Regions from separate parts of the Homo sapiens genome. Here regions 1, 2, 3, 5 and 6 are each linked to region 4. The links come from fine-mapping of genetic effects on gene expression. A gene starts in region 4. Each other region holds a variant in brackets. All regions are shown on one strand. Distances are from middle to middle.

Evidence for each region. PIP is the estimated chance that this variant, and not a neighbour inherited with it, causes the effect. A credible set is the group of variants that fine-mapping cannot tell apart.
Region 1: its variant is the best candidate, but not a certain one, in a credible set for the expression of PALM2AKAP2 in fibroblasts (GTEx, PIP 0.82).
Region 2: its variant is the best candidate, but not a certain one, in a credible set for the expression of PALM2AKAP2 in whole blood (INTERVAL, PIP 0.57).
Region 3: its variant is the best candidate, but not a certain one, in a credible set for the expression of PALM2AKAP2 in whole blood (INTERVAL, PIP 0.88).
Region 5: its variant is the best candidate, but not a certain one, in a credible set for the expression of PALM2AKAP2 in whole blood (INTERVAL, PIP 0.51).
Region 6: its variant is the best candidate, but not a certain one, in a credible set for the expression of PALM2AKAP2 in whole blood (INTERVAL, PIP 0.66).

What each region holds. Positions count from the first base shown.
Region 1 is chr9:110,072,645-110,077,750 of GRCh38, reverse strand. The region is part of intron 7 of PALM2AKAP2 (PALM2 and AKAP2 fusion); the gene reads right to left. Among named protein-coding and RNA genes, the nearest start is that of C9orf152, 130 kb to the left of the region's middle. The variant T/C (reference allele first, on the strand shown) is at 2,281.
Region 2 is chr9:109,920,198-109,925,303 of GRCh38, reverse strand. It overlaps PALM2AKAP2 (PALM2 and AKAP2 fusion), which reads right to left. Exons shown (of 11, transcript NM_007203.5): 4 at 1,455-1,569; 5 at 222-243. Among named protein-coding and RNA genes, the nearest start is that of PALM2AKAP2, 140 kb to the right of the region's middle. The variant A/G (reference allele first, on the strand shown) is at 2,295.
Region 3 is chr9:110,055,925-110,061,030 of GRCh38, reverse strand. The region is part of intron 7 of PALM2AKAP2 (PALM2 and AKAP2 fusion); the gene reads right to left. Among named protein-coding and RNA genes, the nearest start is that of C9orf152, 150 kb to the left of the region's middle. The variant G/A (reference allele first, on the strand shown) is at 2,053.
Region 4 is chr9:109,777,411-109,782,516 of GRCh38, reverse strand. PALM2AKAP2 (PALM2 and AKAP2 fusion) reads right to left here and starts at 2,319. Exons shown (of 11, transcript NM_007203.5): 1 at 1,984-2,319. The coding sequence starts at 2,028.
Region 5 is chr9:110,046,042-110,051,147 of GRCh38, reverse strand. All of the region lies in intron 7 of PALM2AKAP2 (PALM2 and AKAP2 fusion), which reads right to left. Among named protein-coding and RNA genes, the nearest start is that of C9orf152, 160 kb to the left of the region's middle. RefSeq lists silencers at 1,794-1,933, 2,024-2,083, 2,214-2,653 and enhancers at 2,359-2,932, 3,506-4,080. The variant TCCAGGAGACTCCGGGGGA/A (reference allele first, on the strand shown) is at 2,395.
Region 6 is chr9:110,133,987-110,139,092 of GRCh38, reverse strand. It overlaps PALM2AKAP2 (PALM2 and AKAP2 fusion), which reads right to left. Exons shown (of 11, transcript NM_007203.5): 8 at 554-2,966. Among named protein-coding and RNA genes, the nearest start is that of C9orf152, 72 kb to the left of the region's middle. The variant T/C (reference allele first, on the strand shown) is at 3,046.

The sequences.
Region 1 (5,106 bases), 300 kb before region 4:
AGCCACTGCACTCGGCTAAGACCTACAATATTTTCTGTCTGGCCCTTTGCAGAAAACATTTGCTAATGCCTATTCTAAATCAAGATGTATCTGTAGGAGAACCACTGGGTTTATTCAAAATTTGCCCAAACAGCATTGGACTTCCAGGTAACGAGTTATGGAACAGTCACTGGATATCCTGAAGAGAGAGCCCTGACCCGCTGACCCATGAGTCAGAGACGTGAGATTAATGCCCAGCCTCACCGTTTACCTGACACATGGCTTTGTTAGTTCATATAACCCGCTTTCTGTCTAAGGTTTCTCATCTGTCAAATGGGAGAACTTGCCCACGTCACAAGATGTTAAAGTGTTTTGCTCACTGTCAATGTACAACCTCGAAATGAATGTACTATTATAGTAATTATGAAAGCTATCACTGAATGTGTACTTGCAATGTGCCAAGTAACATGCTAAAGGCTTCCTATTTGTTATTGTATTTCATCCACATCTAATAGGGTATCGCCCTATTAGAGGAGTACGACTACAGTCTTCCTTTTACAGATAAAGGAACCAAGGCTCAGAGAGGTTAAGGGATTTGCTTGTTGTCACACAGCAAGTAGTTAAGCTGAGAATCACACCCAGGATTGTCAGGCTCCAGAGCTTATGCTATGAGCTATGGAGAACATTGATTCCAAAACTCTGACTCACTGAGTGGTATCCACCAAATCTATCCACTTCACTGAATAAAAGGCCTACTGGAATTGTTTGAGACAAACGCCGGTCCTGGGCCTACCACAGGGGTGGTATACATTGCGTGACAGCCTCCTTCATGTGCTACAGGTTATGAATTGCCCACGAAATAAACATTAAAGCTCTATCCATACAGGCAAGTGAAAGGGAGCCCCAAGCAGTGATACTGTAATGTTACCTTGACAGATGCCAGGATCAATTTCAAATGAATAAGTAACCCATAAAAAGTGGCTCAACACACAAAACTCGGAGGTGGCCTTGTCTAGCTGGTCTTCCATATGCATCTAAACATCATGTGTGCATGATTTGGGACCCTATATTTTTACTTAATAAAGCACATCTGACCAAAATATTACAGATAACTGAAAAATAATAACATAGGATATATTCTGTAAGTTTTTATTTTATACTCCTGTGTTTCAAAAATGAAGTTTCATTTGGCAACTAGTGAGATTTTATTCTTGCCAGTTTCATCCTTTTGAAAAGCATCCTTTTGGAGGTATATATACCTATATATATATATATATATGTAGAATATATATGATATACCTATATATCCTCAGGAGCCTATATACCTATGCTAGTTTACCCAGTATTTTATTTCCAGGATTCTATCAGAGAGAAAATAACCAGGGATGTTTATAAAACATAAATACAAGGATGTTCACTGCAGCCTTATTTATGAAGATAAACACTAGAAACCATCAAATCACCAACATAAAGCATTTATCTAGGTAAAATTCGGTGGAATATTTTATAGCTATTAAGGACCACGTGTAGAAACCAGACTAATTCACATGGAAGGAAAAATATTCTTTACAAATGTCAATGTCATGAAAGACAAAGAAAAAGGACTGATGAGCTTTATCAGATTAGAGGGTGATAAAGAGACAATATCAAAATACAAAGTGTGATCCAGGATTGGATCCTGGTGTTGGGGTAAAAAAATGCTAGAGGTCACTTTGCAAAAACTGGCAAATTTTGAAAAACCAAGTTTATATTAGGTAATAGTATTGTATCAATGTCAAATTTCCTGAATTTTTTTAACACTTTTGAGACTATATAAAGTAATATAAAGGGGCATGATATCTGCAACTTATTTTTAGAAGGTTCAGAAAAAAATATTAAAAATTATGCATCTGTATATAATATAGACATATATAAATTATATAACATGTCAAATATGAGAAATGTTAACAATTAGTGAAGAGAAAACAAAAATTCTTTGTACTACTCTTGCAACTCTTTTCTAAGTTTAAAATTATTTTAAAATAAAAAGGTAAAATATCTGAAATTTTGCTACATGGGAAAATGCTTATGCTAAAGTGAGTAAAAACATTAGGATCCAAAAGTCCATTGTAGAATAATGTTACAAGCATAGGGGCAGCTTTTACAGGAGCGACTATAGAGGTTAAAAAAAAAGAAAGAAAGAAAAAAAGAGAATGAGGGCAGTTTAAAATATACATATTAGGAGGAAATAAGTCTAAATGTTACCAGTGGCACGTCATTTCTGAGTGGTAAGATTTGGATTGAGTTTTCTTTTCTTCTTTT[T/C]ATAGTTTTTTATGTCTACATTTCTATAATAAGCATGCATTATTTTTATAATTAGGAAAAATGAAATATTAGAGGGAAATTATATGTTTTTATGAATTACATAAACATCTGATTCAGTTTTCAAACAATTTTATGTACTAGCTTGATAGTGGAATTTGAAGATAAGGCATCTAAACCCTAGATAAAATCCTGTTTACAGCAGCAATACCAAATTGGTAAATTTTACAACAAATTAGAAATTATTTTCCATTCAAGCCTTAGAAGAGTAGGGATGAACTACAGGTAAAAGAGTAGGGGTGAACTACAGGTCTGGTGCATGAAACAGCTGGCACACCGACATTCGGCCAGAATTTTTTCAAGATTGTCAATTGACAACAAAAATAAATTGTGCCCGCATTCAAGACACATTCTTCTAATTCATCTCTTACAGTGACTTTTTTTTTTCTTTTTCTTTTTCTTTTTTTTCTTGAGATGGAGTCTCACTCTGTCGCTCAGGCTGGAGTGCAGTGGCACAATCTTGGCTCACTGCAACATCTGCCTCCTGGGTTCAAGAGATTCTCCTGTCTCAGCCTCCCAAGTAGCTGGGATTACAGGCACACGCCACCACACCCAGCTAGTTTTTGTATTTCTAGTAGAGACGGGGTTTCACCATGTTGGCCAGGCTGGTCTCGAACTCTTGACCTCAGGTGATCCACCTGCCTCAGCCTCCCAATGTGCTGGGATTACGGGCGTGAACCACCACACCCAGCCTATGGTGACTTTTTAAAAGCTCATTTCTGGTTCTAAAAATTAGAATGCTACATGGTATGTGTATGTGCGTGTGTGTGTTTATAATTTTTTTGTGAACTATTGGAGTCTTTTTGCAGACATAATGCCTCGTTATTCCTAATACTTCAAGGTACATTTTTGAAAAACAAGGACTTTTTCCACCTAACCACAGTCCAGCCTCAAAATCTTGTAATTAACATTGATGGAATTCTACATGTAAACCATAGACCTCATGCAAATTTCAATCTTGGTCCCAATGATGTTCTTACTAATAAAATGATCCAATCTAGGCTCCCATGTCTCATGTCTCTAGTCTCCTTCAATTTGGGGTACTTTCTTAGTCTTTCCTTGTCTTTCATGACTTTTACTTACTTATTTATTTGAGATGGGCTCTCACCATATTGCCTAGACTGGCCTCAAACTCCTGGCCTCAAGGGATCCTCCCGCTTCAGCTTCCCAAGTAGCTAGGATTATAGGTGTGAGCTATCATGCCCAGCTAATTTGGGACTTCTAAAGATTATAGACAAGTTATTTTGTTGAACATCCCGCAATTTGAGGTTACCTGATATTTCCTCATGATTAGATCTAACTCATGCATTTGTGCAGGAATATCACAGAAGCGATGCTGTGTTTTCCTCTGTGCATCTCATCAAATGGTGCACACTGCCAATTTGTCCAATTACTAATGGTGTTAGATTTGATTATTTGATTAGGGTGGTATCTGCCAAGTTTCTCTACTGCCAAGTTACTATATTCCCTTTGCAATTCATGTGTATTTTGTGGGAAGACACATGAAGCTGTGTAAATATCCTGGTGGGACAATATAATCATTAAAAAAGGTATACTAAGTAGCAATCAATATTCAGCCTCCAGAAAAAAACTAACAGCATTTCATAATATGTTTGTTAGTTATATTTAAGAACTATAGTATCCCTGAAACAATTTTTCAGAACTTCCCCAGAGAAAAGACTCTGGGGAGGGAAATCCCATAATGTAGACACTGCAGTTTGCCAAAGGTAAATCTAATGTTTATCTGCAAAAGTCACAGAAGTGGTGACATTTAGATGTGCAACCTTTAATTCCTGGGGAAACTTTGAAAAATAAATATGACTTGCCCTCTAGATATATCCTCAGAGCTGGCTTTCTTGACCTATCTGAACTTTCTTGTTTGTTCTCTTAACAAAAGGCTTTTAACTGAGATAAAACAACAAGCTAGGCTAACCCTGGCTTGAGTCTGGATCACACACAATGTGATCCAAAGAGTGTCAAGTGTCCATGTAAAACACCCTATAAAAGCTGTTTCAGCCATGGCAATTCTCAGCTCAGGTCATGAGGCTCACTTCAAGTGTCCCAGTTGAGAGGGTGTCCAGGAACTCCCAGGAGAGAACAACCTGTAGTCTTTTTACTTAAGCTTCTTATTTCCTAAAAGCTTTGTGTTTGTCTGAAAACACAAGACCAGCAATGACGCATTCTTGCTCAGAACAAAAACTGTCATTAAAATGGACTTGCAGACAGAGGCTTCAGGGCTTCGCACTAAAGACTCATTCTGTGTTTTGGAATCTATGATGATTATTACAAAAGAAATTACAGAATCAATTGTAATTTTCTTTTCTTATACCTGGCAAGCACAATGGTAGAAACCTCTCCTAAGGCAATGCTTAACAGTTTGGGCTTGGTGTTGTGTGAAGTTTCTAAAAATAAATAGTGATGCATGTCTCCTCTCTCTCATTGCCTCAGATTTCCATTTCCTAATTGAATGATTCTCTTTAGAGAATCAAAATGGTCACGTGCAAAGTTAACCAAGGAAGAAGGGGAGAAAGCAGGCTAGGTAGGCCAGAGGAAAAGGGGCATTTGGGGTATCAACCAAGGTAGAGCTGGGGCAGAAGTCAGGAGACCAAGAATGCCAGCCCACAGAGTAGCCTGAGTATTGGCTACTCCCCAAGGTGGGTTATGTGGGCATGCGGCTGCATTTGAAGGGCAAGATCATGAGGACAGATTGTGGCTCCAGGTGGTTCAGACACCTCTATAGCATTTATGCCCTATGAACACTGCTCCCTC
Region 2 (5,106 bases), 140 kb before region 4:
TGTAAGAGGAGAAACAGTGAGCCAAGAGATAGTTCCTGAAGAAGAGAGGCAGGGAAGGCTTGGAATGTGGACCTCCTCAGTGGCCTGCAACCAGCGCTGCTACTTCTTCTGATGCCTTTACAAATCAACACAGTACCTCTTCCTTAAGCCCCTGTTAATGAAACCCCCTAAGCTGACCAGGATTAAAACATTCATCTACAGTCGGGGCAGAGAGCACTTACCTCCATCCGTACTGGAGAAACCCTGTAGGAACAAAAACAAGGCAGAGCGTTACTCTACATGTGGGGGTACAATCCCATCTTTTCCCATCTTTAAAGACTTAACCCATCTTTCTCCCATGCCCCAGCCCAGAATTTGACTGTGCTGGGGAAACGCAACGATCTCTTTTCTTCTGGACAATTTATTTAGAATTCCAAAATTATAATTCCCAATTTATACTAAATTTCTCCCAATAGAGATTTATTTCAATGATCTAGCAAATATCCTTGGTCATGCTGGAGAATGATATCAGAAAATCCCATCCTAAATTGATTTCATTAGATTGCTTTTCTGTCACTCATAGGTACAGCAGAAACAGTTATAAAATGGAGGGAGGTCCTGAGATGTTTGTTCAGAGCCTACTGGTTTTACGGACTCTACTCTTTGATACACGGCACCACCTGTTTTTTTGTTTGTTTGTCTTTGTTTTTTGTTTTTGTTTTTTTGAGACGCAGTCTTGCTGTGTCGCCCAGGCTGGAGTGCAGTGGCGTAATCTCAGCTCACTGCAAGCTCCGCCTCCCAGGTTTATGCCATTCTTCTGCCTCAGCCTCCTCAGTAGCTGGGATTACAGGCGCCTGCCACCGCACCTGGCTAATTTTTTTGTATTTTTTAGTACAGACAGGGTTTCACCACGTTAGCCAGGATGGTCTCGATCTCCTGACCTCGTGATCCACCCGCCCCGGCCTCCCAAAGTGCTGGGATTACAGGCACCATCTGTTTCTATATACAGTAAAATGTCATGTATTTACACTCTTTGTATTTGGAATTCTTGTCCACTTCATAAGGTGTTGCTTCTGGCCTTTTTATAATGAAAGACTCAAAAAGCAAACTATAATTAAAGCCACAAAGAGCATGTTTATTCTGCTTCATCAGAATTGGTTTTAGAATTCTAGAGTCCAATAAGAGAAGGCTTTTCAGGCACAAGGCATATCAGGGATCCGGAGAGCAGGCAGATGGGGTAATCTAATGACTCTTCCCTATGCCTTGCAGCAGGCCAGATGGTCCCACACCCAAAGATATGTCATGCTTAGCTTCAGGATGGCCCCTGGTCCTCACACATCTGCCCCTCATTTCATAGAGTTCGTGGCTCAGATTTCTCATCAATGCCCACTGGCCTGTTTCCCAGTTAGCACCATTTTGCTAGGCCCTACTTCCCCATGGAAATAACTTTGAGAAATCGTTTTGGTTTTCTTCACCTTCTGAAAGTCCTTGAAGGATTTTTCTGTTTCCTTCAGTTTCTCTAGGATGATTTGCTCTTTGGCAGATATCTGGGACTCTTCACTTTCTAGCGTTTGTATTTCTTGCTCCAGCCTGGAAAACACACAAACAAAGGACAAGTTACTTTATTGTCCTGCCATCCACGGGCAAGAGAGCAGCTCCTTCCTGTTGGGCGATTTGTACCTTCCTGGCAGCCTTTGTTTTACATTACGCTGAGGAGCCAGGCCAAGGTTTTACATTACACAGCATCTTGTGTTTCCAGCTCTGCCACTGGGCAGACATTGGTCAAGGGAAATCAACACAGCACTGCCTCCACTGGTTCACAGCCACCACTATGCAATATGTTTCGATGTTTCCCTGCCAACACCATGCATGTGCACCTTTCTTATTTGGAGGGAGATTATATTTACATAGCATAGGACATAACATCAGAAGGAAAATAGCTTCATATTCTCCTGACCGGCTCAGAGTAAGTGCTCTCTCAGGTTGGTCAAAAAGTAAAGGGCCATTCTTGCTCAAAGGAAGTATGTTGCCAAGAAATAGCTGGTGGCCAGTACCCTTGGGAGCCTGGTGTCCTCTCCCTCTGTGGTCTGGATTCTACTGCCAAAAAGAAGGGAAATGAAGAAGACAGATGCAACTGCCCCTGCCTTTTGGAACTTTCCTCAATTTTCACAGCCATCCTATGTATTTTATAAAAGGGAAATTTCAGCACTGCCAGGAGACTCTGGAAATATTCCAGAATAGCAGCTGCAGCTATGATTTGGGGAAAGTCTCAACAGCCATATTCTTTCAGTGAAATGATAATAATTACCACCAGT[A/G]TTTACTGAGCACTTATTCTGTGCCAGGAACTGAGCTAAGAATTCATGTGGATTATTTTATCCAAACTTCCCAATGACCCTGTGAGTAGGGAATCCCCATTTTACCGATGAGATCAGTAGGGCTTGGCAAGGTGAAGTAACCTAGTAAAGCAGGCTTTAGTGCCACAGAGCCTTGAAGCAAGGATTCAAGCCAGGTGCTCTGACTCTAGACCCTGTTCCTAACCATTGAGCAACTCTTACCACATGGGATCTAAAGTGTTCTCCACATCCCCCACCTTGTTAAACATTACATATATTGGCAGAGTAGGATGGCACTGATATGCAGCAATGTCTTCAGGAAGAATGAAGGGATAAATGTTCTCTTGCTAAAACTCTAGATTGCTGTGCCTCTTGAATTATTTGATCTGAATTTATTCATTGGTTCATTCATTCAATCACTCATTCATTCATTTTTTCTTTTGGTCTCTTTCCCCTCTGTTGTGCTGGAAGCTTTGCTGCTGAGTCTGTGTCTGCCTATATAAGTCCCCTCCCTTGCCTTCCTCCTTTTCCATCTTTTTTTTTTTTTTTTTTTTTTTTTTTTTTTTTTTTGAGATAGAGTCTCACTCTGTCACCCAGGCTGGAGTGTAGTGGTACGATCATAGCTCACTGCAGCCTCTACCTCTTGGGCTCAAGCAATCCTCCCACCTCAGCTTCCCAAGGAGCTGGGACTAAAGGCACACACCACCATGCCCAGCTAATTTTTAATTTTTTTTTGTAGAGGTGAGGTCTTACTATGTTGCCTGCGTGGGTCTTGAACTCCTGGGCTTAAGCAATCCTCCTGCCTCAGGCTCCCAAAGTGCTGAGACTACAGGCGTGAGCCACCGTGCCTGGCCCTCTTTTTCCATCTTTTAATCTGCTCTCGGGAACTGGCCATTAGACTTAGACCTAAAATAAGGAGTTCAGAGTGGGGTTTTCTGAAAGGTAAGGAACACCAAGATCCAGGCATGAATTTATTTAGCGACATACTGTGCCCCTCAGATGGCCTTTCTGTTTCCTTCCTGGGTGTCAGAAAAGTGACCTCTGGAGGGATAATCTTTGCAGCAATTACTTTGGGTTATGAAGGCAAGCCCTATATCCAAATTAACCTCCTCCAAATGAACACAGCTCTGAAATATTTGTCATTTCACTCAGGGTAAAAGTAGAAGTCCTACAGCTTATAAGTCCCCATGGTATCTAGCCTCCCAGTACCTATCAGCTCCACTCTAACAACATGCCTATTTCACTTCATGCATTAGTCAAATAGAGCCACTCTTATTTGCCCACATGTACCCCATGTCTTTTCCTCCTCTAGGAAACTCAACTCAAACTCCCAACCATTCTTGAAGTCTCAGCTCAGATGCCACCTGTCATGAGGTGTTCACAGATTTCACTGCCAGGAAATAACATCGCTTCCCTCTGAACATTTCTTAGCACATTATTTTGTTTTATCAGAAGTCTTATCAAGTCTACCATATATTAGAGCAGTGGCTCTCAACTGAGGTGATCTTGTCCCTCAGGGGATATTCAGCAATGTCTAGAGATATTTTGGTTGTCCAAAGCTCAAGGGGGTGGGACTGGTGTTACTGGCACATAGTGGGTAGAGGCCAGGGATGCTGGTAAACATCCCACAGTGCACCGGATGGCACCCTACAGCAAAGAATTTTCTGGCCCCAAATAGTAACATACATTATTAATTTCCCCTACTAGATTATAAATTCCTCAGACAGAGGGCACAAATGCTCAATACACCTACATTGAATGAATTTAAAAAGCTGAGCTAAGTTGCGCAAAGGTGTGGCCCAGCCAAGATAAGACTTTCAGAATTTTGGAGACAAGAGTGAATTCTTCAGCAAGCTTTAACTTGAGAGGCTGTGTGTGGGCGAGACGCAAAGAGAATTTATGGAGAGGGGGCTGGCCAATCTAGAGATACGAACATAAAGATGTAAAACTTCTTTGCTGGTCCAGATGTTCAGCAAAATCTTCTACACACATCTGTGTAAATTATTTTGGGGGGAGTAAGTAAAGAGACATGAGTGTGAAATAGGAACAACACACGAGACAGTCACATTATCCAGAAACTGAATTAATTCAATGAGTAGAGGAGCTCTGGACTAGAGGTTCCCTGTGTAGACTGGATGATACTACCAACCAGGTGGGCTCTGAGCAGGTTTTATTTATTTATTTATTTATTTATTTGAGGTGTGATTACAGGCATGAGCCACCACACCTGGCCTGAGCAGATTTGATTTAAATCTCAAAGTACAGAGTACTTTAGCAGATATTTAGGGTGTGCAGTAGATTATATTATTCTTGGGCCGGTTGCGATGACTCATGCCTGTAATCTCAGCACTTTGGGAGGCCGAGGCAGGCGTATACCTGAGGTTAGGAGTTTGGGACTGGCCTGATCAACATGGTGAAAGCCCGTCTCTACTAAAAATACAAAAATTAGCTGGGCATGGTGGTGCACACCTGTAATCCCAACTACTCTAGAGGCTGAGGCAGGAGAACCGCTTGAACCCAGGAGACAGAGGCTGCAAGGCTGCAGCGAGCCCAGATTGCACCACTGCACTTCAGCCTGGGCAACAGAGTGTGACTCCATCTCAAAAAAAAAAAAAAAAGATTACATTATTCTCAAAAATATTCCCTTCCTTCCTCCCTTACTTCCATGGGAAGAGTACATGCTTCCCCAAGCCACTGATGTCAATCTTGACCATGTGATTTGCTCTAGGCTTATGGTAGATGGGTTACACTTCCCAGTCCCTTGGCACTGGCCGCAGCCATGTGACCTGCTTTA
Region 3 (5,106 bases), 280 kb before region 4:
CTTAACGGGACAAAGGTCTCTAAGGAAGAAGACATACAGGCAGAGATTGCCTTCAAAATTAAGGAACTGCAAAGTCAGGGAAATAGACCTTCAGACAGCTTACAAGTAGCTTAACTTGTAAGCTTAACTTAATATTTAGAGTAAAAACTCCTGCTGTAATCCCAGCACTTTGGGAGGCTGAGGCGGGTGGATCACAAGGTCAGTAGATGGAGACCATCCTGGCCAACATGGCGAAATCCCGTCTCTACCAAAAATACAAAAATTAGCTAGCCCTGGTGGCATGTACCTGTAGTCTCAGCTACTCGGGAGGCTGAGGCAGGAGAATGGCTTGAACCCAGGAGGCGGAGGTTGCAGTGAGCCGAGATCGCGCCACTGCACTCCAGCCTGGGCAACAGAGTGAGATTCCATCTAAAACAAACAAACAAACAAAAACTCCTGGACCTGTTGACCCTCTTTCCTCATGAGAGTGATGGAGACAGCAGCTGTCTCAGCACCAGTTGTCACCCAGCACAGTAACAATGCAAGGGGAAAAAAATAGGGCCTGTGGGCCTGACCTTGACCAATTCATCTCACTTTTCCATCTTCAAAATGGAATTAAAAACTATCCAAGGACCCCAAAGAGTAGTTGTCAGGCTAAAATAAAATTACCTGGCCCATCCCAGCACTTTGGGAGGCCAAGGTGGGCAGATCACTTGAGGTCAGGAGTTCGAGACCAGCCTGGCCAACATGGTGAATATTAGAAATACAAAAATTTGCCGGATGTTGTGGTGCGCACCTGTTGTCTCAGCTACTTGGGAGGCCAAGCCAACAGAATCGCTTAAACACAGGAGGCGGAGGTTGCAGTGAGCCGAAATCGCACCATTGCATTCCAGCCTGGGCAACACAGCAAGACTCATCTAAAACAAAAACAAAAACAAAAACAAAAACAAAAACAAAATACCTGGCCCCACAGAGGGCATTCAATCACAAATTACAATAATAAAAAGCCTAGTAGACCATCTTGCAGACACCCTGATCTCTGATTTTCTTCCTCTCATTTATGTACCTTTAAGACTGATATATTTTAAAAATTGTTTCTAATATTGATTCTCAAATACTTTTCTCAAGACAATTACTGTACTAAAAATCGATGACCAGGTGCCAAATCTTCCCTTTCTGAGCATAACTGATAATCCTCCATAGACACTGCTCTCATGATCTCCACCCCCTAGTCATTCCCCATAGCTCCCTATTTTTCTAATGCAGAGCCCTCTGGAGCAGATCAGATGGTAAGGTGGAAAAACACAGGCTTCCCACTCCTGGGAAGACACATTCCACTCTGGCCAGAAGCCTAGCACTCTGGCTTCTTCTGCCCTAGTCTCTGAGTCCAAAGGCCAGGCTTGAATGTTCTGCAGCTGGCCGGTCACTGCCCCCACCTCCTTTCACATCCACAGCCCCACATTTCCTTTGCAAAGGAGAATGAAAGTTATAAAAAGATGATGCATAGAAATTGCAAAAAGATTTTATTTTTCTTGGAATGCCTTGGTCTTAAATCCAGTTTGGGTTCCAAAACTTGTCTAGAATAACCTATTTCAAGGATAATGTCCATGAAAAAGTAGTAGAAAATGACTATTCTAGTACCAACAACTAAAGAAAGCAGGAGGACATAATAGAACAACAACAAAAACACCAACTCTGTTTTAGAATTCTGTACTTCGAGAAAGAGCAAGTTAATTTAAGAGTAAAAACAAGACAGCAGACATTTCTGGCAACTCTCAAAGGGACTCTCACAACTGGATGAATGACAGGAGCTCTTTATTGGATATAATTTCACTTCAAAACATTTTCCATCGGCTGGGCGCGGTGGCTCACACCTGTAATCCCAGCACTTTGGGAGGCCGAGGCAGACGGATCACTTGAGGTCAGGAGTTTGAGACCAGCCTGGCAAACATGGTGAAACCCTGTCTCTACCCAAAATACAAAAATTACGTGGGCGTGGTGGCACATGCCTGTAATCCCTGCTACTAGGGAGGCTGAGGCAGCAGAATCGCTTGAACCCAGGGGGCGGAGGTT[G/A]CAGTGAGCCGAGATTGCACCACTGCACTCCAGCAGGGCAACAGAGTAAGACTCCATCTCAAAAAAAAAAAAAAAAAAAACCAAAAAACTTTCCATCAGTATACAATAAGCATACTCATTTTACTTCCCAGTATTGATACAGGTTGCTGTTCAGCTCAGAAAAGGAAGAAAGAGAAGAAAAAAAGGGAGAGAGACAGGGGAGGGAGGACAGATCTTTTCAGATGTTCTGGGCCAGGATCTAAAGAGAATGGGAAGGAAGGAGGGAGAGAGGATATGTGTCCACCAGTGGAAGTGGCTACAGTGTCGTGGCATTGAAGGAGTTGAGTAAGAAACAGTGAGGTGTGGATCCACGCAGGCAGGGAGGAAAAGATGGTAGAAACAGCGCTTTGGTTCCCTTTACCAATTATTCATTATTTGCGTTCCTCCCCCAGCCTCCAGGTGGCACAACTGACCCAGCATATCCTGCTTGAGAACGGAAAGGTAGGACAAAGGCCAGGGCAAGTCTTAGGAATAAAATGAAGAAACAGAAGGCACTGTTGCCAGGCAGGATTGGGAATGGGAGGGAATGTTGCCTTGTAGCACCCTCAATGGTGGGTACTCAGTACATGCTTAGAAACTTTTCCACTGCATCCCTGATATTATTGTTTGAGAGTCTGACACTCTCAAAACTCTAATGGAAATCTTTCATGCTTCAGTTTAAGCTCTTTTTCTCTTTTCAAGTCCCAATAAAAATATTCCCATTTGCATAGCACACTGCAATTTGTATCAACTCCTTTAAGATCTACTTCCTAGAGATTTGCATACATCTGAGGCTACGAAACATATCTACAGGATGTGAATTCTACATCTAGACAATTAGACCAGGGTTTTTCAACATTGGCACCATTGATATTTTGTGCAGGATAATTCTTTGTTGGTGGAAGGGGGTGTCCTGTGTGTTATAGAGCGTTTAGCTGCATCCCTGGTCTCTACCCATCAGATTCTAGTAGCACCCTTCCTCCCTCACTGAGATAGACCAATGTTTCGGGTCCAGTCCATGGATTCAAGTCCTGAGTCTTGGCCAGGATGCATAGTTGTAATTGTCAGACTTTCCTCCTCTAAGCAGAGCTTCCTCACACAGTAACATGCTCAGGACTCATTAGGGATTTTGCTAAAATGCAGATTCTGATTAAGTAGGTCTGGGATGGGGCTCAGGATACTCTAGTTTTAACACGCTCCTGGATGACAGGAATGCTGCAGGTCCCCAGACCACACTTGGAGTAGCAAGCCCCTACAGCACTGGTTTAGTAAGAAAAGGAGAGGGCTGGGCGTGGTGGCTCACACCTGTAATCCCAGCACTTTGGGAGGCCGAGGCAGGCGGATCATGAGGTCAGGAGATGGAGACCACCCTGGCTAACACAGTGAAACCCCGTCTCTACTAAAAATACAAGAAATTAGCCGGGCGTGGTGGCACGCGCCTGTAGACACAGCTACTCAGGAAGTTGAGGCAGGAAAATCGCTTGAACCGGGGAGGCAGAGGTTGCAGTGAGCTGAGATGGCGCCACTGCACTCCAGCATGGCAGAGCGAGTCTCTGTTGCAAAAAAAAAAACAAAAAAACAAAAAAAAAAAAAACAGAGAAGGAGCTGGGTAGGAAAACTGACCTGACATTATGTAGCTGTGGGACCCCTGGATGGTTATGTGACTTCCAAATGTCTCAGTATCTCCATTTGAAAAATGCTGGTGACTATAAAGATTAAGTAAAATAGTGTAGGTAGGAGTTCAAGGTTGCAGTAAGCTATGATCACACCACTGCACTCCATCTGGGTGACACGGAGAGACCCTGTCTCTAAAAAAGTGGAGGTAAAGCAACCAACTTACCAGCCGACACTCAAGAAATATTAATTCCCTCCCACTTAGCTCCTCCTACCATCCTGCCTGGGAACCGCAAGGACAAGGCGTCCCTGGGAATTACAGGGAATTCCCTAGAAGGTAAAACTTAGTTCCTCTATGAATGGTGAGTGGAAAGGGAACGATCTCTTCTCTTTTCATTCCTCTATCTCAACACCCTCTACGCCACTCACACTATAACACCTGTCATCCTTTGGAGGCTATAGATGGTTTTGATAATGAAACATACCATAAAAATAATACTTAAAATGATATACACATTGTGATTCCATTCAAAAGCAATGCCTCCCACTCTTGAGTCCATCTCTGCCCTGCATTTAACACTGATCTGAACTATTCTTTGAAGGAAAAATGATTCCAAACAGGAATCATCAAGTGCTTTGGATATGATCTAAGTTTCCAAATACAGTCTGTTCATTTTTTCCCCCAAAATGAATAAATTCTGCTCATCTGTAATGTGTCTGAGGAAAATTCTTGCTAACCTTTGCAAGTATAAAATGTTCTGATGCAAAATACTAATAGGCCAAGCTAAAATATGGCTTTAGAATCACACAGCACATGGCACATGGACTCCACCTTGATTTTAATTCACGCACACAGAGTGCCTTTCAATTAGGGTTGAAAAGTACTTGAATTTTCTGGAATATTAACTAAGATTTATTCCTTTGGGAAAGTCATTCCTCCAACCCACCCAAATAAAAATGGCTAAACAATGATGTCTTTCTCCATTTGTAGGCGGTATCAAAAAACTTATGGGAGGCACCACTCCAGACAAAGTAAGATGCTATATTATCCCACCATGGGAATGACATCACGGTAATGTAAGCTGACGCAGTCAGCTGCACTGGGAGGCGGGCTGAAAACGGTCAGTTAACCACTGCCAGGAAAATGTGGTTTGGCCTTCCTCACACCTTCTACACACACCTCACCAGGTGGGAGCTCAGGAGGACTCTGGATGAGCTATGCATTAAGGCTGAAGTCAGGCAACTGTTGGGCGGGAAGAGGGGCAAATGAGGGTCCCTCCCTGCCCCCTACTGGGTGACGGCATGGCACCTTTCATGGGTCTGCAGGACCAGTCTCAGCTACTGAAAAAGTCTAGCTCAGTCCTAGCCCCACAGGTTTCCCACAAACGCCCTGGAAAGAGCCATGGAGTTTGGATAGGATGG
Region 4 (5,106 bases):
GTTGATTATACTGTATTATTTAGGGAATGGTGACAAGAAAAAGTCTGTACATGTTCAGTACAGACTCAGCTATCTATTATTTTTTCCAATAGTTTCAATCCAAGATTGACTGAAGGCGTGGATATGGAACCCATGAATAGGGAGGGCAGACTGTATTAGGTGCACATTCATGAGAATAATCAACAGCTCCCCAGATACACAGGACAAACTCAATTCTTCAATAACTGAAGAGGCACAAGTGAGTATTTGTGTGTATTCTTATATGCTCAAGAGAATTCCCAAAGATTTGCCTAGATCTTTCTTGGAAAATCGACTTGGCCTCTGCTGGGATTACTCAACCGCACTTGGAAAAGGGTACCCCAGTGTTAGCAGCTACTGGCTCCATGTTTGGAAAGCAAGTCCTTTCATGGAGTTCAGCTGTTCCTCAGGCATCCAGTAAAGCTGGTTGTGCAAAGGCAGAAAATGTGACAACTGTTGGAAGCCTTCAGCAGCAGCCAATGGGAACAGCCACTGCATCAACAGTTAAAGCAGCCTATTATCCAGTTCACACAAAACACCCACCAGCTACATGGCACCATTAACTCAATATCACCATTCTTATCAAGTTCATGACACACTGGCCATGCTGCCTTGCCACCAACTTTAGAAACCACAAATAACTTCACAAACCATCAAAATACACATGCACAGGGGGAAAGAGAAAGAAGAAAAAAACAACCTTTCTGAGTTCAGAGCACCACGTTCAAAGATTACCTAATAGGCAAACCATGGCATTTCAATATTGCCAGCAAACATCTCTCTCACTTCAGTGGTGAAGTCTCCAAGACATTTCAGATTTGAGGCGTTTGAGAAAGAGGGTCTCAGAGCCTTGGAGACCATGTCAAATGCTTCTAAAAAAGGAAGGGTCTGTGTGCATTTTCCCAATGAAGAATCTGTCCAAAAAGGTTTTGGAAAACGCTTTAATATACTTTGGTTCCAAAACATTACACACTATTTCTCCAACAAATTTATATGTGTTTCCAGAGAACTTCCGAACTGAAAAACACAAATGTATTTAGGTGGAAGAATGTCTGGAGATTCTTTTATGCCAATATGTTAACGGACCTTCTTTTTTAATTGTTACTATTTCATACGGCAGCAGTAATCATTCCCTCATCCTCGAAGGAAATATATAATCCAGCTGTGGTGGCTCCAGTAAAAATACCACATCTGTGGATCATTGGCAACACTGTGTTAAGATTGCTCAAATCTAGGCAGTCTCAGAGAGTTCTTTTTTAAACCCAAGATGCACATGGGTACACTTTTCTGAAAGTGCCTACGAACTTTGCCAAAACTGACTACTCCTTTGTAGGCTGAAAATAGGTTTTCAGATACTCCACACCATAAGAAGGAGGCTCTCATGGAATATTATAACCAGGACCCAGTTGTATGAAGTCCCCAGACCTCCAGGGTGGTGGCTTGTGCCAGTGCCCTTGTCAATATCAAACAGAGAAGGGAAAACTAACATTCCCGGTTTCTGGGAGGAGGTTCTACCGCGTGGCTGGCTGAGTCGCTGACTCCTGGTTTTCCACTTAACAGGAGGACAGCTTCCGCAGAGAGGATGGCAGCCACCGTTCAGGTCACCCTTCTCTTGGTTCTCCAGGCTATGAAGCCAACGTATGCCTGAGCATTCGGTCATAATATTCCTGGAGTCGTCCCCCCACCCCAAGCCTCTGTTTAGTCCTTCCCCAAAGCCCAGCAGCAAGCATCTTTTTTTAAGCCAATCTTCCACATTCAAATCCTCAGTCCAAAGCGCGCCCTTGGGGGTCTCCATCTATAGACATAGAAAAGAAAAGGCAGCCTAGCTGAGCCCTGACAGAGTTTTAGCCCCTGGAACATATGACCTGCGGCTACTGTGCTGGCATGCCGCTTGCCCCGAAACCCTCGGGGGCCCCCTTCCACCCCAGACAATAGAGCAAGAAAATAAAATGAAAGTGGACTTACTGCTATGGCTTGCAGCCTTTCCTTGTGCAATTCCGCCTCTGCCATCCTGGAGAAGGGCACACAGGCAGGGGAAAGAGGAAAGAAAAAACACACGCTGTAGTCACCCAAGGAAACTGATGGGCACCCCGGGGGGCTTTGCTAGAACCCGGGAGAACGCCCAGGGACGGCTGGGGATCCGCTCCAGGGGCGGCGGGCAGAGCTGTGCGCACGGCGGGCTCGCCCGGGCTCAGCCTCTGGCCCCCGCCCTCCCGGCCGCCTGGCTGCGCCCCAGCGCCGCCGCTCACTGCATCTCCCGGTCGCCGCCGCCGCCGGCCGCGCCAGCCGAGGACGTGGGACGCCGGCAGCCGCCGGGAGGGCGCGCTAGCCCGGCGCTAGTTCTCCGCCCTGACGTCTCGGTGCCTCGCTCCGCCCCTGGAGTGTGATGGACCCGAGGCCGCGGTCCAAGGCGGCTCCGAGCGATCGCCGCCGCGGGTCTCCAAGGCGCAGACGGAGGGCGCGCGAGCCAGTGGGCACCTGGGGCGCGGGCGCACGGCGAGCCGCTGGGGCGCACGGCTGGCGTGGCGCGCCCGCGTGGACACGCGCTTGCTGGGGCGGAGGCAGAGCGCAGTGGCGCCTCCACCGGGCAGATGCCAGTGGAGAGGGGCGTCTGACCGAATGTGGGACCCGAGCACGTGCTGTTACGTGGGGGCTGGGGCCACCGAGTGTTCAGGGCACCTTCTGGCTCAAGCCAGACGCTTGAGCTCCACGTGGGGACATTTACAATTTGGGAAGGGCTGCCTTGCCCAAGTGGCCCACATGCTTAAGATGACCAAGTTCTCAATATCAAGTCGGCCGAGGGTAGGGTATATCTCCAGAGAGGCCACCCTTCTGGTGAGGCGATATGTGGCCTTAAAAGAAGCCGAGAGTTTTTAGTCCTGGGTGCTAGACTAGATTTCACAATGTGTTAGCTGTGAAATCTCAGGCAACTCGCTTAATCACTCTGAACCTCAGTTTCCTCATCTGAAAAAATGGAGGATCACATAGGTGTCATTAGAGACGAATGAGAGACAGTATGTAAAGGTGCTTTGTAAAGGGCATCACAGACATCTGCTCTTATTATCCTGTGACATTCTGGATTGAAATCCTTTCAGGGTCTTCTGTTCATTGCATCTGAAAGGAAAAGTAGGATCTACTCACTAAAATATTTCACCTATTCTTTACTAAAACAGGATACCATGTGGTACTAATGTGAGTCTTTTGTGACAGGTCCTGGACTGGATGTAAGAAGTGGATCAGGCCCAGTCCAAAAGGAGATCAATGCCAAAAGCAAAAAAAAATGCCTCTTCACATTGAGGCAGGACCTGCTAGAATTCCCAACATTCATATGCAAACGTTTCTTCATCAAATGAAATAAACACTGAAATAACTAATATGGCCTCTTTAGAGCCATAGGATTTAAAGGCATGTTAAAAGATATACACATCAGGCCAGATGCGGTGGCTCACACCTGTAATCCCAGCACTTTGGGAGGCCAAGGCGGGTGGATCACCTAAGGTCAGGAGTTCGAGACCAGCCTGGCCAACATGGTGAAACCCCTTCTCTACTAAAAATACAAAAAATTAGCCGGGCGTGGTGGCAGGCACCTGTAATCCCAGCTACTTGGGAAGCCGAGGCAGGAGAATCACTGGAACCTGGGAGGCAGAGGTTGCAGTGAGCCGAGATCACATCATTGCACTCCAGCCTGGGCAACAAGAGTGAAACTCTGTCTCAAAAAAAAAAAAAAAAATGCACATCAAATTTTCCCAGATCACCTGTTTCCTGAATAAATGCTTCCATTTCAACTAAATTGCCCTTTCAATTTTCACAGAGGTTCACCTGTCACTGATGAACAATTACTCCTCTGACCAAAGATGGAAGCACTCACCAAAATCGTTTACTGATGGATTGTTTTCCCATCTTTTTCATAACAAGTGTAGGTGGAGCTGATTGTTTAATAAATCCAAGCCAGTGCCAGATTCTACATCCCACTCCAATATATCAGAAACTTCTACTTTCTGGCTAAGCCCATCCTTTTCTTCAAATGCATCCTTTTTTCTTCATTTCCAGCACAAGCCCCAGCAGGACAAGTTATTTAAAGGGGTTTGCTCACAAATAAACAAAGCTGTTATTGCTTCAGCAGAGTGATTGTAGAGAATACTAAGATGAGGAAAATGAGACCAGAGAGGTTGAAAGACTCAGCTACAGTTATAGAGCTGGGATTTAAACTCAGATCACACTCACCAGAGCCCATGCTCTTAACCATTAAGCACCAGGCTTGGCCAATGATATGGAGATAGAAGCAGGCCCCAGGAATAAACAATTGAACCAGAAATGGTCCTTCTACTCCCAGCTATACAGATATTTAAAAGGTATGATTGAGCACAACAGTGTGAATGTACTTACTGTCATCAAACCATATGCTTAAAAGTGGTTGAAATGGTAAATTTTAAGTTTTGTATTTTTAACCGCAATAAATTTTTAAAAGGAGTGATGGAATGGGGAGATGGAGAAGGAAAAGGGCCTGGGCACCCTTTGGAAGTGATCAGTTGGAAATATCTGAACTCTGAATAGAAGAATCGGGGTTGGGGACACACATCCAAGTGTCATCTACTTTGCGGTTACAGCTAAAGAAATGAGAACAGCCAGGATGAGAAAACAGAGCAAGAAGAGGAGAGAGCCCAGCAAAGAAGACTGATAAAGTATCATCCGAGAAGTAGAAGGAAAAATTCAAAGGGATTTGCACCAAAAGCCACAAAGAAGGAAAGAGGTTTTCAACAGGGTCATATGCTTCTGAAAGGTCATGGGGGATGCAGATGAAGAAGAGACCATTGGAGGGCTGTCAGTAAGCCATGAGTGACTTGTGTCCAGAAGATGAGCTTGGAAGCACTTACAAGAGGTGAGGAATGACTGCTACCAAGTGAATGTTGAAAATAAAACAAACAAAAATGGGGATGAGCGAGAGATCAGAGAAGCAACCATGAGTACAAACTGCTTCTTTCAGCTCTTCAGATGTGAAAGATGAAGGTGGAGAACAGGAACATAGCCCATGGGAAGCAGGGTCTAGTGGAAAGGGTTTTTAGGTCAGGCAAGACTTGGATGTTTGGG
Region 5 (5,106 bases), 270 kb before region 4:
CAAAGCCCAGCTATTCCTCTCATCCTAGCATCTCAGCATCCCAGAAAGAAAGTGAAATGAACTCTCCAGCAGAGTTGGTTAAGTAAAGACTGGGAGACAGGCAGCCTTACTTTTGTTGTCCCTGGCTCAGGACTAATTTTGTTGGTGCTGTCCAAGATAATTGCAGGAAACTTGGTGTGCCTCCACTCAAAGGAGAAGATGCCCTTTAAGGAAAGGGCCAGGCCGGGTGTGGTGGCTCATGCCTGTAATCCCAGCACTTTGGGAGGCCGAGGCAGGTGAATCACCTAAGGTCAGGAGTTCAAGACCAGCCTGGCCAACATGGCAAAACCCCATCTCTACTAAAAATATAAAAATTAGCCGGGTGTGGTGGTGGGTGCCTGTAATCCCAGGTATTCGGGAGGCTGATGCAGGAGAATTGCTTGAACCCATGAGGTAGAGGTTGTAGTGAGCCAAGATCATGCCATTGCACTCCAGCCTGGGCAACAAGAGCAAAACTTCGAAAGAAAAGAAAAGAAAAAAAAAGAAAAGAAAAGAAAAACAGAGAAAGGGCCAAGGGTCAAAACTGGGGAGGAGACAACCGGCAGCGGAGCATTGCTTAAAACACTCTTTAGGCCAAGTCTTTATGTTTAAAGAAACAGAGTAAAACTCCTTGCTGGATACTCCTCATTTCTAGACATATTATTATGAAATTGTATTCATGAATGTTGGGGAAGCTGCCAGACTGGAAGAAAGGGAAGCTTAGTTAAATTTAAATTAAGAACATTTCCAGAAAGAAAAGTGTGATGCTTAAATGAACTCTAATCAGAACAAAAGACAAGGAAGCAAATTCCCTGGGATCCCAATGGTGAGAGGAGTTTGTATTCATGCAGTCTCCAGGAGCCTGTGAAACGGGAGTTGGGATAGAAGAGCGCTTCCCGGGAGACATGGGCTTGTTCACAGATTCCAAGATGCAATACAGAGAGAGGTGTATAGACGTATGAGTAGGTGAAGTTTCTTTTCAAAAAGAAATATTATACATTTAGGAAGTCTTCCCAAATCACCTGTGCTGCATTTAAAACTGCTACGGGGAAGGGTAGTGATATGTCAAAGTCTGATCTGACCACGCAGCCTATCAGAGCCAAACCCATGCTACCCCACACGGGAAACGGGCTTTCCTGGGTCTGGAAAGGGAATCCACCATCTCTCTAAACGAGTCACCTCCCAGACGCCCTCTTTGTGGGTCAGGAGGGATCCCTCAGGCTGGCGAGCGCCTGGCATCCGCGTTGGAGAGCTCGGCAGCCCGGCTGCACGCCGCCTCGCCCTTTGCCTTCAGTCCTCACCCGGCCACCAGCGCCACAGCTCCCTGCTGCGGGCTTCCGGCTCTCCCGGGCTCCGTTTTACTCCCCTCCTATCCACTCCGTTTCTCTGGGATTTCTTGGGGCCACCAGTGTCTCCTTGCTCTGGTTCTTGCAGGCGCGTCGCCTCCACGGACATTACAGGTACGGCTTGCCCAGTGCTCTCCCCCACGGTCTGCTCTTCCCATACCCCAGAGTGTCCCCAAGAAGGGCCCACAGAGACGCAAACTCCGGCTTTATCTCGGATAAGATACCACATTCTAACTGCTGAGGTCCCAGCCTCAGGCCAAACTTCTGGCTCAGCTCGGACCCGGACCGCGTTCTCCCTCCCAGGGCAGAAGAGGCTGCTGGCTCCTCCTGCATCATCTCCTGAGTTCAGCTCCCTGGACCCTATCCCGAAAGACTCTGGCTGGGGCCGGGACCGGGGCCGGGGCCCGGCCCTCCCTGACTTCAGTCTCTCTGAAAAGTTCAGGACTTGCGAAAATGCCCCCGGCTCTGCCACCCAAAAGGCAGGACCCGCGCCTTCCTCGCGAGCTAGAAGGAACGGCTGCACCTCCCGGTGCTCCCGGGGCAGGAGATGCGGCCACGACCACATTTGATTTCACTGCTTTTCCTGAAAAGGACACACAGCCCAGCTCTGTGTGTATACAGGGAGAAGCGGAGTCCTGCGTTTAGTTTTTAAAGCATATATAAATGATAAGCATTGAACAAAGCAGCCAAAGGCTTGGCCCTCCCACAAACCTAGGAATTCAAATCCACATGGCCACAGCCCCTCCACCCGGGCCCTCTCCCAGCACACGCTCCGCTCGACAAGGACCACAAAAAGCCCTTTAAAAGCCCGCGGTGCTTCCGAGGACTCCCAGATTTCCAGCCCTTCCTCGGCAACCCCTTCCTCGGCCACCCCTTCCTCACACTCGAGGACACTCCAGCCCCTCCCCTCCCCAGCTTGGACACCCACCTCTGGGCGCCCGCTCCCGGGGGCGCAGTCCTGGGGTTCTGCTCCAGTCCAGCGCCGCGCGGCCGCTGCCTCCCGCTCCGGGGGTCCAGGAGACTCCGGGGG[TCCAGGAGACTCCGGGGGA/A]AGGCGAGCGGCAGCCCCGGGCTGGGGCCAGCGCATCTGCAGGGAGTGGTAGCCTCCGGGCGCGCTGGAGGGCGGGGAGCCCCGCCCGCCTGCTCCTGGGGCCCGCCCCTTCCCCGCCTCCTCGCTTCCCCTCCAGTAGCCCAGCGCCCACGGACCGCCCCTCCCTCCCCTCCCCTCCCCATCTACCCACACCTTCTCCTCTCAGTGGCTTCGGCGGAATCGATGCACAAACGAAGAAATGAATGAATGCAGAGACTGGAGAGAGGGAAAGACGGAGGGATGGATGGGGCGGGCAAAGCTGAGTGTTTCCTAACTCAGGGGAGCGCTGTGTCTGGGTATATGGATACTTGTTAGCGCACGGGGCTTTGGAGCGGGGTGGCGTGTCGCTGTGTGTGCATGTGGACGTGTGTGTTGGTGTACACATATGTGCGCATGAGCGTATGTGGAAGTGTGTGAGTGCCTGTGTGCGCTCAAATGCCAGGAGCCGCTGAGTTCCCACTCAGGCGGGGAAACAGCCCCTCGTCCCTTACCTAGCACCACGACTGTCCTCAGGGTCAGAGCGACTCCCGGAACTGGTTGCGAAGTGCGTCTTTGTGGCAGTAATGGTGTCTCCGCGTGTTTGAGGACTCCCCCGATGGGGTTCAGAGGCTGAGGTGTGGACAGAGATGCTTCCAGCTCACTGGCTCGCCAGAGCCTTCCTGCTGCCCTCCGTGTAGTGGCAGCCGGTGGCCCGGTGTCAGAGCGCGTGTGCTAACAAAGCCAGCGGAGGGGAAGGAGGCAGCTGATCCGCAGACTGGGGCTGTATTAGGCGGGTGGCCAGCCATCCCTCACTCTTGAGATGTCTGAAATTTCAGTCTCTCATCCCCTCCTCCACCATGAATATTTAAATAATGTTAATGACCCTTTGAAAATGAACCGTCTAGAAATCCTGAGAGAGGACAGGCACACACAAACAAACACCCCACCTAGAGAGCAACACTTTCAAAAGCAAGCTGTGGTCTTACTCTGCTGTAGGTGGCCGCATTCATTCTCAGCAGAGGAAGATCACAAAAGTCAGATTTCTTGAATTCAGCTTTGCCCTAGGCACGATTTTCCCAGTAATTCTCTCTCCCCAGCTTTGCAAGTCGCCCTTGCACTCTCAGTTAGGTTTCCACCCTAGGGCAGTCTGCTATTTTCCCCACTCCTTGACAAGGCCCTGGGATGCTCTTCTGGGAGTCAATTTTACATGTGAAACACAGCAGGGAAAGACAATAGCCATGGCCTGATTCTACTTTCCTAACCCACAAAGGTCCCTGATTTCCAATACAAAGAAATGATACCCTTGGGAACTACCCAGAAAGCCCATCCAGGCCAAGGGCACCATAAATAGCACCTTCAGAGAAAAGACTTCTTCCCTGCCTTGAGCGCTATTCACACTTTCACCCAAGGAAGAGGATGAAGTCTACAATGGGACATCAGCTGTTCTCAGGGTTCCTGAATGTCAATAGCCTCCTTTATCTTGGTATTTGGAAATGGTTTCACGATCCTTTTTGCCTGTTTGTCTCTTATACTATTGAATTTCAATAGAATTTACTGACCAGTGGTTAGAGATGCCAGAGCTTCAGCCTTGACTCAACTTTTTCTTCCTTCCTTCCTTTTCCTTCTTTTCTTTCTTCCTTTTCATTTTTTTCTCCTCATGTCTCCGATTTAAGGAATTAAATGCTTGGATGCCCTACATACTGATCTATTTTTAACATTTTAATATCATGTGAAAAACTCACATTAAAATGAGTGTGCTTGGATATCACTTATTTATTTATATGGACCATAGACTCTCTAAGGAAGAATTTTAGAATTACATCAGATGTGAGATGTTATAAACAATATCATGGCAGGTACTTCATCACTCCCTTCTCATATTTTCCTAAATTAGAATAAGTGTAAAATTTACAAACAAAATTAGTTTCATTATTAGAAACAGTAAAGCAAGGCCGGGTGAAGTGGCTCACGCCTGTAATCCCAGCACTTTGGGAGGCCGAGGTGGGCGGATCATCTGAGGTCGGGAGTTTGAGACCAGCCTGACCAACATAGAGAAACCTCGTCTCTACTAAAAATACAAAATTAGCCAAGCGTGGTGGCGCATGCCTTCAATCCCAGCTACTCAGGAGGGTGAGACAGGAGAATTGTTTGAACGTGGGAGGCAGAGGTTGCAGTGAGCCGAGATCGTGCCATTGCACTCCAGCCTGGGCAACAAGAGCGAAACTCCGTCTCAAAAAAAAAAAAAAAAAAAAAGTAAAGCAATCATACCAACTTTATTCTGAATTGCTTCTTTACTAAAACAACGTCAATGCTTTGTTAATATTAATTTTAAAGTTCTAGAATATTCTTCAGAAAACTATTAGGAATATTAATTTAGGAAAAATATATGCTTAATAGATATTAATTTATAAGAACATTTTCTTCCACCTTCCAAATTATTAAAGAGGTAGCCATGATTAAACATTTTTAATATAAAAGGCTTGGTACATACCAGATGCTCAGAAATAGTTGTTTAATTTGTTCAATGAAATCCATGCAAGAGTATGAATGGCTGCATGCAAAAGTAAACACTGTTTTTAATTAACATTTTCTCATTTATTTTCTCCTAGGCCAGTGGTTCCCAATTGAGGGTGATTGAACTCCCCAGGGGACATTTTGGCAATGTCTAGAGACATT
Region 6 (5,106 bases), 360 kb before region 4:
CTTAAGAAGAAAAACCCAGTTACACGGAAGATGAACAAAAGCATTTTGCATGGACCAGTCTGCAATGCCATGCCATGACTATCATTGCTGGGAAGGAAACCAGCATTCAGAAGGGGTTAGTTAGTAGAGGACAACTCCCAAATCAGATGGGTTTAACTAGATACTGAGGGTCAAGCTACTGATTCCAACATAGTCCACACATGGGTCCACTCTGGTTCTATGCCACAAACAGCCTCTCCTTCAGACAAGAGGCAGGCTTTCAAGTAAAAGAGAACAATTCTTTATAATAAACCAAGGCCAAAGCAGAACAACAAAGAAGGAGCTATTGCATCCTCTGGAAAGTGGCAAACTCCATGCAAGCTCAGGGTTCTTCTAGAGGACACTCTTGACACTTTTGTTGCATGTCCCTGTATGCTGGAATTCTCATGCCAGTGTCCCCCCAACACTTATTCCAGACACACACAGAGGAGGCTCCACATAGAAACCCATGAGCTGGAATCAACAACAACAGACTGCTGTGGCATCTGTCTCTCATGTGAGGCACCTCACTTACCTGGAGCAGTTTTGTAGCATGTTCTGGAGGGCAGTGATGGGGCATTCTTTGTCCTGGGGCTCTGCGTACTCTGCAAGACTTGTCTCTGCCTCTTCAGCTCCTCTTCCCTTTCCTGAGCTGCTCGGATCTCTTCCTCAATCATGGACAAAGTCCGCTGTTTCCTGGACCTCAGCTTGAAAGGCCCAACCATCACGTCAGATTCTTGAGTGGCCAGGAGGGAGGCTGTGCTTCTCAGCTCAGCTGCCTCCGAGTACTTGCTGAAATAGCTTCCTTCGGGCCTGGTCTCCTCCATGTTAATCGGGCCACTGGGCTGCACAGCTGGCAGTGGCTGGGGGGGCCCCCTTTCCCTGAGCGCCCTGTCTTCAGCAGGCAGAATCTTTGGTAATACATCCCTTTTCTCTTGAACAGGAGAAGACACCTGAGGTGGCTCAAACATGCTCTGAGGCTTTTCTGAGCCGAAAGCCGCAGCTTCAGCTTCCTCTACAGTCGCTTCAGGTCCCTGTTGCTCTGCTCCATCCCTGCTGGTTTTGGACACAGCTTTATCCACCTGCTCGGCTATGGCTTGTTGAATGGCATTCTGCACCAGGAGGCCAGCCTGATACTCCAAGGGGTCATCAACCAACGGAGAGTCCCCCAGCGTGGAGGAAGGGGAATAGAAACCATGATCACTAAATGACTTGGAGACGCCTTCTCCTCGGCCCTCTGAGGGGTTGTCAGTTTGTGGTGTCTGGGGCAGAGAAAAATCAGCCAGTGAATTTTCCTGGAGGGCATTGGTTGTCTCATTGGATGCCCCGCTGTCACTGATGTTGTCCATGCTGAAATCATTGGATAGGGTCTCCAGGACTGTGGTATCCTGAGACCTCACCGACAATTCGTCCAGACCAGAGTCAAGCTCCTCTTGGGTCAAGGAGACATTGACAGATCTTGAGAACTGATCCAAAATCCCATGGTCATCATCCTTGACCACAGTGAGGACAGCCCGGGCGCTCGTAAATTCTCCATCCTCAGCCCACAGTTTAGATAAGGGCCCACGTTTAGAAGGCTCGCTGTAGGGCCCTTCCTTCCCCTGAGAGGCTGTGTTGCCCTGGCTTCCTGCTGCCGATGGGGTCTCCAGGGCACCGGGGGATTTCTGTCCCTTGGCGGCTGAGGCACCACTGTCTTCTGGAGGTCCCCCGACAGAAGGTGGTCTCGGATTAGTCAGTGGCTTGTCTGAGTTGACTGACCCCAGAGGCCTGTAGAAAGGCTTGATGGAGAACAGCCTGGGTGTACTCTGGCCCTTGGCCACCGCTTGCCTGGAATTCTCCATCAGCTGAAATTGTTTGCGAGCAGCAGAGAAATCTATCTGCTCTGTGACAATGTCCTCCTTTGCTTTGTCAATCATGCTTGCGCGTTCATGAGAAGAGGCAGGGGCTGTGCAGAGCTGCGATGGGGGCTGCTGCTGCTGCTGCTGTAACTGCTTCTGCAGCAGCAACTGTTCCTGCTGTGCCCTTCTCTCTTTGCGCTCCTTGTACTTTTTGTGCGACTCCAGATGTTCCTCGTCCAGCTGCTCCTCGATGGTTTTTTCCTGCGGGGGATTCCACCATTTTGCTGCAATGCCAGGATTCTTCTTGACGGCCTGGCTGCGGATGAGCTCTCTCCTCTCCTTTTCCAGCTCCAGCATCTCCTCTGAAGGCCTCACTTTTCTAATGCAGTATTGTTCTTTCTCATGCTCGTCATCCTCAAAGAGCTTGGAGGGCTTCTTGTCCTCATGGAAGGCACGCAGCTCAAACTTGGCCTCCTTTTTCAGTGTGGTGAGAGTGAACTCTCCATCTCGGGAAGAACACCGTGAGCTGGTTGTGGAGCTGGGGCTGACAGGCACCTGCAGGCTGTCCCCCAGCGCATCTCTAGGCTGGCTGGGGGAATGGCCATTTGTTCTTTCTGCCTCTGCCATGGGGTCAGGGCTGCTATTACTGAGCTCGATGTGAGGAGGTGCCTGCCGGCTAGCTGTTCTTTCAGTGGGTTCTGGCTGGGTCGCCTCGTGGACAGGGGGGCTTAGGCCGCCCACCAGAACCACTGCACCAGGCTCTGGGGAGGATGTTCCATTGTACGTTCCATCCACAGCAGAATCACAGCAGTTGGCCTCTAGCACCTCATCTAGATAGCGGATCTCTCTGGCAACATCATTATCCAGGGATTCGTGGTGATCAGTAAGGAGGCCATTATGCGGGGGTGAATAGAAAGCGGAGGGATGGTCCATGGGATGTGGGGTAGAGGTGATTCCAGGAACACTTTTACATTCTGCAACAGACACCTCAATTTCCATGTTTTTGTGATCTGGGGAAAGAGAGCTGGCAGCAGGCTCCAGGAGGGTGGCACTATAGTTGTCTCCCTCGCTTTTTAGCCAGATATCATCCTCAGAAAGCTGGGGAGGCTTCTGGAATAAAGAGTAAACAAAAGTCAGGGTTAAATACTGCATCTCTTATGGATGTGAATGCTGACAAACTGACTCATAA[T/C]TAAGAGGAAGGAAAATGGAAACCACAGTGACAAATTCTTTTGAATAGATATTTTCTAATAATCCCTTAAATGTTCATTTTCTTGTAGTAACAGGTGCCCAATCCTCTCTAATTTATGGATTCCATTTTGTTTACATGCTAGTGCCATTTTTAAATTTTATCTACTAAGGTGGAAGAGATTACATCATTATTGTACCAGAGTCTTCCCAAGTATTTTGCGGCAAATGATTGCAGGCTGTGCAATACGACTATTAATAGGATTGCAAAAAGAAGGTCCTTTTGTATGAACAGATCTTTAAAACATATGACTCTCTGCCAGATGTAATGCAGTTATTCTGGAGACAAGAAACTTTTTGGAAAATCTTTGCAGAATAAAATACTGGAAAACAGTAGATCCCTTTAATGGCAGCACACAGGCTACAGTGCCTCACTGCCATGGCTGTAATTGACCATGTGCCTTATGAACACCATCACCAAAGCCACTGACTGCACAGCTCTGTTTTCTGGGATTGCATCAAAATAATACTCTTTAGTTAAGAAGTCAGCACTGCTTTGAAAAACTAATGGCCAATGGTACCTCTCCTCCAGTTTTTTAACTGCTTTATATGTGATATCTTCAGTTTGTGATTCAATAAGAAAACCCTATCTTCTTAATGTTTTAAAACCCATCATATTTTTCTTTTTTTTTTTTTTTTAAGGAAGGAGGTTTTTTGTCTTGAGGGCTTTTTTTTTTTTTTTTTTTTTTTTTGAGATGGGATTTTGCTCTGTGGCCCAGGCTGGAGTGCAGTGTGCCATCTCGGCTCATTGCAACCTCTACCTCCTGGGACTACCGGTGTGTGCCATCACCCCTGGCTGATTTATATATATATATATATTTATATATTTTTTTTTTTTTGTAGAGACAGAGTTCCTCCATGTCTCCCAGGCTGGTCTTGAACTCCTGTACTCAAGTAATCTGCCCGCCTCAGCCTCCCGAAGTGCTGGGATTACAGACATGAGCCACCACACCCAACCCATCCATCTTATTTTTCTACCAGTTATCTAGCCTATGTAATTTTGTTATTTGGCATTAGAAACATTAATTTTCAAATTATAAGATGATTTTCTTTTTCATATCAAAGGACTCTGGCTTATCTCAAAGAATTCCAGTAAAGTATAAACTTAATTTGAGTTACCATCAAGGACCTTACAACACCTAGGTTGGCTTTGTTTCCCTGTCTCAAGTTTATAATGTGCCTGGTATTATTGACATAGGACAATGCAAAATTGCAAGAGAGTGTAATTTTCATTTATCTAAGGTTTCAACAATTTTAAATGCTTAGAATATTAAAACACCACCTTAGGACGATTCTCAGGAAATTAATTTCAAAATCCTTCCCAAAAAAGTGGATAATTATGGATTTGTTCTTGAGACCTAAGAAAACACTGGAGTTCATCGTAAGTGCTCTACACTGCTGTCAGAATGTTGAAAAACTCTCTGAGTTATCCATGAACTGGGGGGTTTCCTTCACTCTTCACTTTCCACATTTCCTTTCAGACTTAAATTATTCAAGTAATGTATATGTCTTCTCCATTAACAGGCACAAATAATGAGTGTTCCTCTTTTGTCAACATCTTCCATTCTCTGATTTTCTTCCAGTCTAGGTCTGGTCTTTGTTAAGGAGTGATACTTAACACAATTAATATTTATAATTGCTAATATCTTTATTTTTTATTTTTGACCATCATTAAATAGTAGTTTTTGCCACCACCTTCCTTTTTTTTTTTAAGAGACAGGCTCTTGCTCTGTTGCCCAGGCTGGAGCACAGTGATGTGATCATAGCTCACTGCAACCTTGAACTCCTGAGCTCATGGGATCCTCCTGCCTCAGTCTCCCTTAGGACTACAGGTGGGCATTACCATGCCTGGCTAATTTTTAAAATTTTTTGTAGAGATAGAGTCTCGCTATGTTGCCCAGGCTGGTCTCAAACTCCTGGACTCAAGCAGTCCAGCCTTGGCCTCCCAGAGTGCTGGGATTACAGGCATGAGCCACCCTGCATGGCCAGCCCTTTTAAAACTATT